3 linked regions of the Homo sapiens genome follow. The protein of the gene in region 1 purifies or fractionates together with the protein of each later gene. This does not show direct contact. Each region holds a gene or a part of one and is shown in the gene's direction. Other genes may lie near its edges.

Region 1 (4,176 bases):
AGTTTGATATACTTAACTAATATTTAGTAATACTATGCTTACAATAAATGTGAAATAAGCATTTAGATCACTGTCTGGAAGCTTTAAAAAGCTGTTAAAGTGATCTGATATTTACCCATGTAACTTTTCTTTAAGATAAACAAATAGGAGAAAGAAATACATGGTAAACATGTAAATGTGTGTTTGAATTCTAATGAACATTTCAAACTATGAGGCTATTCAGCAAGAGGGATAGAGACAATGTTATTTCATTATGCGTACATCACACAGATGAGTTGCATTTGTGTTTGGGTATGCATAAACAGCAAAAGGATGTACAGAACAGTTTTTCAAACAATTCAGAAAGAAATTTAGCTGAAGGGTTTGCGTGTTACATTAAACAAATGAAAACCAAATTGCATTTCATATTTTATTTGTAAGATCCTCCAGGCCTGCACAGAGTAGAGGACTAAATGACAAACTTTGCTTTAACCTTCATCTTGGAATTCATTTCCTACCACTCTTCCTCTTATTAAATTGAACTGTTTGTCCTAAATCTGCCTGTGTACATGGTAAACTGTAACCTAACTTAATGTGTAAACAACCTGCAACCTAACTTCAGAGCATACATTATAACAAGTAGCAAAATCTCAGCGAATCATAGCAGCCTAACCTTCAGCCAACTGTAGGCCGAAACCTGCCAAAACATCCAAATAAAGCAAACACAGAACTCTAGTCAATCAAGTTATTTCCGCATGTCATTTCCATTTCTCCAGCTATAAATATTGCCTGCAACGCCTTGTAGGATGAAGCTCTCTGCACTGCTTTTGGTCCTGAATGTTATCTGGTTCATAAATATTTTTTATTTTCTCTGCTCAAATGAACTCTGTTAAATTTAACTTGTCTAAGATTTTTCTTTTAACACTGTCTAAGTTTATATTGGGAGAAGATCTCCGAAGCAGATGTAATTGCTTTTATAACAATGTCCATCCATTTATTCTTTAAATCTCCCACCAGCATTTCCACTGTGTCTCATTATTCAGGTTTCCTACTCCATGAAGACATTATCTCGGGATACCTTTTGGTCTTCACAGAAAAAGGTTGACACACAAAGACCAAGTGATTGAACATCATAATTGGTAATTAGTTCAGGGTTTTAAAAACTGTTCCTCTGGGATACATTTTAATGTAACTAATAGCAAATCACTTCAAGATGCTCTTCCTTGGGGTCCCTTGTCCTTGAGTCAGGAACCATGCTTTTCATTGATCTTAAGTATAAATAAACCAATACTAAAGCAAGCATGAAAGAGCTCATTTGATAGCAAACTGGCAAGAGCTACTGTACTTTTAGTTTTTTACAGTGATTTAATACAGGTCACCATTTGAACATGACAATACTCTGCAAAAAACTACAGTGAGTATTTGTGGGCAGACTGTCTAATTCTTAAGTTTACCATAAAATCATGGCCTGAGTAGGGATATTTTTGAGCCAGGTAACATATTTAATTCCTTTTTAGCCATAGCGCGCACACACACACACACACACACACACACACACACACACACAATCCATCCGCGGATTGTACTTTAATTCAAAACAGGGGATTTTATGCTATCAATGTATCAAAATACTGATGATGCAAGTATTTATATTGCCTGCCAGCCTTTCAAAATTTTTCCTTTCATATCAAATATGCAAAAGTTGGAGTTTAAAAGACAGTCAACTAAATTTAGGTTAACATACTTTACCAAGTTATGGGAATGCTTGACATGTATGAGAAATTGTTTTAGAATATGTCCTTTCTTTAATTATCATAAAGACTTAGCTAAATAGTTTAAGAATTAGCTTGCAAAACTTCTCATTGTATCAGGATGCTCCAAGCTGCTTAAAACGCCTCTCAAAAATAGAACCTTACAAGGGTTTCATTTACTCATTTAGTGTTCATATTCTACCTACATATATAAGAATCTGTGACAGACTCTATAAAATGGTGAGTGGCATGTTCAGAGTTGAATTTAAAAAAAAAAAGATTTCTTCCAAAACTTAGAAAACAATGTAAATGTGAAAAATAATGTCTTCCCAAACATAGAGAATAAAATGCTTTCAGACAGGAATTGCATTGGCTTCAGATGTCCTAGGGTGACCAACTTTCCCAGGTTGCCTGAGACTGACAGGTCTCCTAGGATGTGGGTCTTTCAGTGGCAAAACTTGGACAATCCCTGGCTAACCAAGTGGTTGATTATCCTTTGTAGGGTAGGGCCATGATTTGTATGCAGGTATTGACTCTCCTTAATCTCCGCCACCTTTTCTCTTTTTACAATTTATTATACTGCCTTCACACTGATCTTCCTTTCCTACCTCTCTGATCACTTCGAAACCTAGAAAATTAAGAAGTAGCTACTTTCACTTCTTTTCTAGTACTTCAACAGTGAAGCTAAGCTGAAGAGAATGTAACATTCTCCTTAAACGATGCTTGAACTAGAATCACCTCTGACGTAGCCCTACCTAATAGAAAGTGGCCTAGAATGAAACTGTCTGACAGAAGTCATTCAGGAATATGAGAGTACGAGGAAATTTGTATCACTCTGTCCCCATAAAACACAGTGGCTGCTGTGGGGAGTTCTTAGTACCTTGCCTTAGACAACATAGGCCCTTTAAACGTGTGCCGATATTGTTTATTATGACAATGAAGATGAAAATACTTGAAGACGGAGATGATGATAATGATGTAATGGATACATAAGAATAAACTGTGCTGTTGGAGTTGACATAGGTATAACATTGGCTTATAAAATGCAACATGAGTGAATTTTGTCATTAGACTCCCTGGATTCAGATTTCCATGTCGCCAGTGTCTGACTGTGTGACAATAAGCACATTTGATAACTACCAAATTTCACCAACTACTTCATATGTAAAATAGTGACATAAATATTATTAATTTTTTTTGAGACAGAGTTTCGCTCTTGTTGCCCAGGTCGGAGTGCAATGGCGCGATCTCGGCTCACTGAAACCTCCGCCTCCCAGGTTCAAGCAATTCTCCTGCCTCAGCCTCTTGAGTAGCTGGATTACAGGCATGTGCCACCATGCCCAGCTAATTTTGTATTTTTATTAGAGATGGGGTTTCTCCATGTTAGTCAGGCTGGTCTCAAACTCCCAACCTCAGGTGATGCGCCCGTCTTGGCCTCCCAAAGTGCTGGGATTACAGGCGTGAGCCACCGCACCCGGCCCTATTAATTCTTAAACTTATCCTCATGATTCAGCAAAATAGCATGGTGAATGGCACATAAATCAAGCATCATTGTGTATTATTAGTAAATGTTTGGTGTTCTAAAGTAAGTAAACAGAATGTGACCTCAATTCACTCCTTCCAGGAAAAGGTTGCCAGTGTTTATTTGGCAGTGCACTGCATCCTGCCAGACAAAATGGTCTAAGTTTTTTCTGTATGTAGTTTTATATCACTTTCATTTTATTCTGGCAATTCTATATCACTTTCATTTTATTCTGGCAATTCATTATTATAAATAAATCCTATTGTTAAACTTAAATTGATAATGTTCTACAAACCAGGTGGTGCCTGTAAACACAGTCTCCATTTAAGATGGACAAATACTGTCTCCCTCTGAATTCATCCTCTATGATGCCTTCAGGGCTGGCTTTCTAAAACTGGGGTATGTCACATACTACTTCCTCTCTCAGAAATCTAAAATTTCTCCCTTATCGACTACTTAACAACAAAATAATTCCTTACCTTAGAATATAATAATCTCAAGTAGTCCTATCTTTTCTTATTTTTATTTTTATTTCATTATGACAGGGTCTGGCTCTGTCACCCAGGCTGCAGTGCAGTGGCACAATCTCGGCTCACTGCAACCTCCGCCTCCCAGGCTCCAGCGATTCTCCTGCCTCAGCGTCCCAAGTAGCTGGGATTACAGGCCGGCTAATTTTTGTATTTTTTGTAGAAACGAGGTCTCACTATGTTACCAAGGCTGGTTTCAAACTCCTGGGCTCAAGCCATCTGCCCACCCCAGCCTGCCAAAGTGCTGGGACTACAGGTGTGAACCACACACCAGGCCAGTTTTATTGGAATTTATCTTCTCTTTCCTCTTCCCTTTCCAATCGCACTCCTCAAAACCTGCTTACTTTTGGAGACAATACCACATTCCTGTGGACTAAAAGCAGAGTTATTCATGAGA
Region 2 (3,597 bases), on another chromosome or scaffold:
GCCCGGTGGCTCATGCATGTAATCCCAGCACTTTGGGAGGCCGAGGCGGGCGGATCACCTGAGGTCAGGAGTTCAAGACCAGCCTGGCCAACATGGTGAAACCCATCTCTACTAAAAATACAAAAATTAGCCGGGTGTGGTGGTGGGCGCCTGTTAATCCCAGCGACTTGGGAAGCCGAGGCAGGAGAATCGCTTCAACCCGGGAGGCGGGGGTTGCAGCGAGCCGAGATTGTGCCATTGCACTCCAGCCTGGGCAACAAGAGCAAAACTGTCTCAAAAAAAAAAAAAAAAAAAAAAAAGAAAAAGAAAAGAAACGATACTGTAAAAATATAGCATTATCATCTTATGGGACTACCATTGTAAATGTGGTCCCTGGTTGACCAAAACGTCATTATGTGGTGCATGACTGTACTCGTATGGAAATATCCATAGCAGTGTTACTCACAGTAGCCAAAACGTGGCAGAAGCAACCCAGTGTCCTTCAGCAGATGAATGGGCAAGCAAAATGTAGTCTTTATATACAGTAGAATATTACTCAGCTTAAAAAGGAATGGAATGTTTTGAATGTGGCTTTTGTTGGGGGGGAGAAAAGGAATAGAATTCTGATACATGCTATAGCATGGATGAACCTTGAAACCATGCTAATGAAATAAGCCAGACACTAAAGGGTAAATGTTGTATGATTCCACTTATATGAGCTATCTAGAGCAGACAAATTCACAGAGTTAGACGGCAGAATAGAGGTTCCCAGGGGCTAAGCGAGGGGAAATGGGGTTATTGTGTAATGGGTAGAGTTTCTGTTTGTGATGGTGAAACGTGCTGGAAATAGTGGTGATGGTTGTGCAACGCTGCAAATGTACTTAATGCCACTGAATTATACACTCAGAAAATGACTAAAATTGTAAAAAAAAAAAAAAAAAAAAAAAAACCAAAACCACACACTATGATTTTTCTAAGTTAATTTTGTTTCATTTTTCCTAATTTTTTCTTTAAAAAGAATTATCAGGCCAGATGCAGTGGCTCAGATCTATAATCCCAGCAGTTTGGGAAGCCAAGGTGGGCAGATTGCTTGAGCCCAGGAGTTTGAGACCAGCCTGGGCAACATGGTGAAACCCCATCTCTACAAAAAGTATTTAAAAATTAGCTGGGTGTGGTGGCGCATGCCTGTAGTCCCAGCTACTCAGGAGGCTGAGGTGGGTAGATCACTTGAGCCTGGGAGGTCGAGGCTGCAGTGAGCCATGATTGAACCACTGCACTGCAACCTGGGTAACAGAGCGAGACCCTGTCTCGAAAACAACAACAAAAAAAGGAGTTATCTTTTTTGTTGTTCGTTTTTGAGACAGGGTTGCCCAGGCTGGAGTGCAGTGGTGCAATCATGGCTCACTGCATTCTCTAACTCCTGACTCAAGACATTCTCCTGCCACGGTCTCCCAAAGTGCTGGGATTACAGGCATGAGCCACCACGCCAAGCTCATTTTTCATAGTTTATAAACAGTCTGGAAAAAATAGGAAGAATTCTAGAGACTAAATATTCAAATTTCGGATACTAACATGTTGCATATATTTTCCTGTTCTATTAAAGGATATTGCTCTAAAAACAAGAGAAATCTTTACCAACCTAGCACCGTTTTCAGAAGTTTCGGCTGATGGAGAAAAGAGAGTCCTTAATTTGGAGGCGCTAAAGCAAAAACGATTTCCACCAGCAACAGAAAACTTCCTTTATCATCTAGCAGCAGCCGAACAAATGCTGAAAATCTGACTGTGTGACAGAACGTATCACTGATGACTGATAGAAAGCCCTCTTTCACTCTGATTACCCACTCACTACATGAAGTCCTGAAAATAACAGAGAAACTGTTATATCTTTTTAATGATTTATTTGCAAGTATTGAGATTTGACCTGAAAAACAATGAAACACATGAACACACTTCCGATTTTCTCCTCGCTGATTAGCTTCCTGCCTGCTGTCAGTGCTGGACGAAGTGCTATAACTACTTTATGTAACATTACAGAACAGCTAGAGGTCCTGGGGTAAGAGAAAAAAAGCACATCACAACAAATGTGAAAGCCTTCATTATTACACGTTCCAGTTTGTCTCGCTGTGTAGGCATAAGCTAATGGTTTATTTTCAGAAAGCTGCCTGAAACGTTGCTTTGTATTCTTCTAGGAAGAACTTTAATTCCTCCTGAGGAACTCTACTTTCTGAGCCAAACTGCTAATTTTCTGCGGAACTGTCTAGAAGATCATTCAAGAGACCCTGCAGTTGCACTTTCTCGTAAAAGTTAAAAAAAAAAAAAAAAAAAAAAGGTTTTTCCCGGCCTTTGAACATTTTGCCTATGAGAGTTTTGCATATATTTTATACTTGAGTAGACAACTTTAATAATCCATATTTATACTATCGCAGAAGTAAGCATTTGGCAAACGTTCAGCCATTAGCACTCATTTAACCCTGTTAGCAATATTCTTTTGAAAAAAGTGCCAGTCCTTATGTGATAAACTAAGAAGCCCATTGAATATAAAAGTGTGTAGGACTGAAACAGTGACCTTATATTATTGCTAAGGGAATATGAGATTAACTTCCTACAGGGGCCAAAACCAGAGAAAGGCTTCCAGCAACTTCGATGAAAGTAGTTTGGCCACATGTCAAGCCAATTGTTTGTACTATTTATGTACCTTTTTCATAACTGGAATTGCCAAATAAGCATGGAGATCTAAATGATGTACTTGTTAGTGTATTCATTCATATTGACTGTAAAGGATTATTTTTCACTCAGTACTGATGTCCTTGGAAATCTTACCTGGAAACATGTTTGCAAAAAACATTATTGGGTCTTTCATCTTTTTCTTGGTATTACATATTTGTTCAATAAAAATTAAACACCCTCCCTTTTTTTTGAGTGAGGGCAGGGAGTACCTGAAATAAGACAATGTTTACTAAGGCAAATAATTGAAAATTAAATCTGCACTTTATGGAAATGAGGAATATTAACATCTTTTTTCTCATTTTTTTGTATTACTATATTAGCTAATGATCAAAGTTGTTAAAATTATAAATTTATGATGCAGAAATAAAATTGATATATTTTGATATTCAACTACTTTTAGGTGGGTGACGAATTGTCCCCTCTTTCTCTAATACTGCTCATTCCAAAGAAAATGGGGAAAAAATACCTTTTTTCAACTGTGAGGGCGCTAGGGAATTATTAAAAGACCTGTCTGAAAGTTCAAGACGGCCAAGGGCGCGGTGGCTCATGCCTGTAATGCCAGCACTTTGGGAGGCCGAGGTGGGCGGATCACCTGAGATCAGGAGTTTGAGACTAGCCTGGCCAACGTGGTAAAACCCCATCTCTACTAAAAGTACAAAAATTAGCTGGGTGTGGTGGCACATGCCCGTAATCCCAGCTACTTGCTATTTGGGAGGCTGAGGCAGGAGAATTGCTCGAACCAGGGAGGCGGAGGTTGCAGTGAGCCGAGACTGCACCATTGCACTCCAGCCTGGACAAAAGAGCGAGACTTGGTTTCAAAAAAAAAAAAAAAAAAAAGTTCAAGCCGTCCCCCACACACCCTTTCCTCCCGCCCTAGCCCTCCTCCACTCG
Region 3 (3,595 bases), on another chromosome or scaffold:
AAAACTCATCTCTGACTATATCAGCCAGCAGAATGTTAAAGAAGTGAAAGTTAAGAGATTTTTATATCAGTTTTGCTTGTACTTAACAATAGAAGTGTTATTAAATCTGCTAGCTATGGCATTAATTAAAATTGAAACAAGGAACAGACATTTTGCTATGAACTTTGTGCCTTTTGAACCTGAGCCTGACTTAATAGTGCCAAGTTGTTTAGACTGGAAATGCATGTATTTTGAATCAGTAATGGAGATTAGCTAGAATGGAATTTTTTAAATTTGCAAATATCTTTCATTTTAAGTATGGTTGAATTCAAATTATTGCAAAAAGGACTGAGGAAAATATGCTGGAAAAGACAGGGTCAGGTAAGACCTAATTTGGACATGCTTGATAAATTAATCAGATATAGCACCATCTAGTGGAATACTGTTATATTTTTCTGTTCTCAGTCATTTAACTCACAGGAGCCTATGGCCCTGCCCTGCCACCAAAAATATTCTTTGAAAAACTTACTTTTCTAGCATGGTCCCTGTGGTAGACCGTGCCCTCCACTCAGTCCTGAGCTCAGGTTGTCACTGGTGGCTTAGATTTAAAAGGGTAACAATTTCCCAGCTATGGCTCAGGTCTGTGAGGGTAAGGCCTAAATTCCTCCCTTTTTTTAATATATTCTTTCTTATTCCTGTGGCTGCCCTAAAGTTGCCTGTAGCTCTCACATGCAAGAGCTTGATTTTTTTCCAGCCTGTCTCCATTTTTTACTTCTTTCTTGCAGGCATTGAAGAAAAATGTATTTATAAGATTTACAGAATATTAGGCTATCACCTCTATAACATCCAACTAAGTGACCAAACTGCCTTCTCCTGAAATTTCCAAAGCGGCCTCAGGGTATATAATCTCTGGCGTAATGTTACATAACATATATTATAACTTATAGGTGATCTAATACAGTGGTGCTAAAATGGTGGGGGGCGGCGGAGAGGGAGGTGTGATTTAGCCACCTTCCTCCAACGCAGGGTATTTAGGAATGCCTGGAGATATTTTTGATTGTCAAAACTGGTGGTACTTCTGGCATCCGGTGGTCAGAGGCCAGGGATGCTGCTAAACATCGTTGTTGAATTTGGTTTGCTAGTATTTTGTTGAAGATTTTTGTATCTGGCTCATCAGTGATGCTGGCCTGTAGTTTTGTTTTTTTGTTGTGCCCTTCTCTGGTTTTGGTGTCATGGAAATACTACTTTGTAGAATGAGTTTGGAAGTATTCCCTCCTCTTCAATTTTTCTTTTTTTCTTTTTCTTTTTTTTTTTTTTTTTTGAAGAATTAGAGCAGAACTGGTATTACTGTCTCTTCAAATGTTTGTAGATTCAGGGGTAAAGCCATCAGGTACTGGGCTTTTCTTTGATGGAAGACTTTTTATTATAATTTTGATCTTGTTACTCCCTATTGATTTGTTGAAGTTTTCTATTTCTTCATGGTTCAATCTTGCTAGGTTGTATGTGTCCAGGAATTTAACCATTTCTTCTAGGTTTTCCAATTTGTTGGCAAAGAGTTTTTCATAATACTCTCTAATGAGTCTTTGTATTTGTGTGGTCTCGGTTATTATGTATCCTTTTCCATGTCTCATTTTATTTATTTGGCCTTCTCTTTGTTATTTCTTAGTCTGGCTAATGGTTTGCTGATTTTCTTTGTCTTCTAAAAACACCAGTTTTTTCTTTCATTGATCTGGTTTTTTAAATCTCCTTTTTTGTTTGTTTGTTTTTTGTTTTTTGGCTCTGATCTTTATTATCTCTTTCCTTCTACTAGGTTTAGGCTCCGTTTGTTCCTGCTTTTCTAGTTCTTTGAGGTACACCATTAGGTTGTTTATTTGAAGTCTTTCTACTTTTTTGATATAGGTGTTTATTGCTACAAACTTCCATCTCAGTACTGCTTCTGCTGTATAGTATAGATTTGGGAATGTTGTATCTCCATTTACATTTGTTTCAAGAAATTTTATACTTTTTTTCTTAATTACTTCATTGGTCATTCACGAGCTTGTTATTTAATTTCCATGTGTTTGTGCATTTTCTGAGACCCTCAGGTTATCAGTTTCTAGTGTCATTCCATGGTGGTCATAAAAAATACTTGATATGATTTCTACTGTTTTGAATTTATTGAGACTTGTTTTGTGGCCTAGATATAGCCTATTCTGGAGAACGTGCCATGTGTTAATGAAAACAATGTGTATTTTATAACAGTTGGGTGAAATATTCTGTGAATATCAGTTTGGCCTATGTGATCTATGGTGTACTTTAACTCCAGTGTTTCCTTGTCAATTTTCTGTCTGGAGGATCTGTCCATTATTGAGAGTGAGGTGTTGAAGTTCCTCAGTATTATTATATTGCAATCTGTCTCTCCCTTTAGATCTATTAATGTTTGCTTTATATACTTGGGAGCTCTTGTGTTGTGTGCATAGACATTTTAAACTATTATAGCCTCTTGCTGAAATGACTTCCTTATTATTATAAGTGACCTCCTGTGTCTCTTTTTACAGTCTTTGACTTGTACCTGTTTTACCTGATATAACTACTTCTGCTCTTTTTTGGTTCCCAGTTGCATCACGTATCTATTTCTACACCTTCACTTTCAATCGATGTGTGTCTTTATAGGTGAAGTGGCTTTCTCATAGGCAACATGGTAGTTGGGTCTTGTTTCTTTGCATTCAGCCATCCTATACCTTTTAATTGGAAAACTGAGTCCATTTACATTCAATGTTACTATTTTTCTTTGAGGCAAGGTCTTACTCTTGTCCAGGCAGTGGTGTGATCATGACTCACTGCAGCCTCAACTTCTTGGGCTCCAGCGATCTTCCTACCACAGCCTTCTGAGTAGCTAGGACTATAGGCACATGCCACCACACCTAGCTAGTAAGCTAGGATCTCACTATGTTGCCTAGGCTCAGTGTTATTATTGATCAGGACTTACTACTGCTATTTTGTAGCTTGTATATTTTCTAACTCCTCTCTTCCTTTCTTCCTTTTGTACTGTCTTCCTTTGTGGTTAAATGATTTTCTCTGGTAATATGTTGTAATTTGTTGCTTTTTATTTTTAGTGAATCTATTAAAGGTTTTTGCATTGTGGTTACTATGAAGCTTATAAAAATATACACATAAGAAGTTGTTTTTAAAAGATGACGATTTTTATTACAAAGAAGTTTTAAAAAAACTTTATAAAGGGGTTTCTTAGGTCTACGGTTTAATTGCATTCACCCCACATTTTGACTTTATGTTGTCTCATTGACATGTTTTTATATTGCCTATCTCTTAATAGGTTGCTGTAGATGTTATTGTTTTGATACATTTGTCTTTTGAGCTTTGTAGTGGTGTTATGAGTGGATTGTAAATGACAATTACAGTTTTAGATAATTTTAGGTTTGTTTGTATACTTAATTTTACCAGTGGGTTTTATACCTTCAGATGTTTTGTTCTTGCACATTAGCATTTTTGTCTTTCAGACTAAAGAGCTCTCTTTAGATTTCTTATGAGACTGTTGGTGATGAATTCTCTCAGCTTTTGTTTCTCTGGGAAAGATTTTACATATCCTTCGCATTTGAAAGATAACTCTGCTGGATAC

The links.
Region 2: the proteins of OR13G1 (region 1) and DENND10 purify together in Homo sapiens (affinity purification with mass spectrometry; one large-scale study listed by BioGRID and IntAct). This does not show direct contact.
Region 3: the proteins of OR13G1 (region 1) and BEND6 purify together in Homo sapiens (affinity purification with mass spectrometry; one large-scale study listed by BioGRID and IntAct). This does not show direct contact.

What each region holds. Positions count from the first base shown.
Region 1 is NC_000001.11:247,676,857-247,681,032, reverse strand, and holds the start of OR13G1 (olfactory receptor 13G1), read left to right. Parts: upstream 1-1,293; 5' UTR 1,294-1,393; intron 1,394-4,176. UniProt on the Homo sapiens protein: Odorant receptor.
Region 2 is NC_000010.11:119,134,889-119,138,485, forward strand, and holds the end of DENND10 (DENN domain-containing protein 10), read left to right. Parts: intron 1-1,582; coding exon 1,583-1,759; 3' UTR 1,760-2,168; coding exon of another isoform or gene 2,169-2,180; 3' UTR 2,181-3,096; downstream 3,097-3,597. UniProt on the Homo sapiens protein: Guanine nucleotide exchange factor (GEF) regulating homeostasis of late endocytic pathway, including endosomal positioning, maturation and secretion, possibly through activating Rab proteins such as RAB27A and RAB27B.
Region 3 is NC_000006.12:57,020,883-57,024,477, forward strand, and holds part of BEND6 (BEN domain-containing protein 6), read left to right. Parts: intron 1-3,595. UniProt on the Homo sapiens protein: Acts as a corepressor of recombining binding protein suppressor hairless (RBPJ) and inhibits Notch signaling in neural stem cells, thereby opposing their self-renewal and promoting neurogenesis.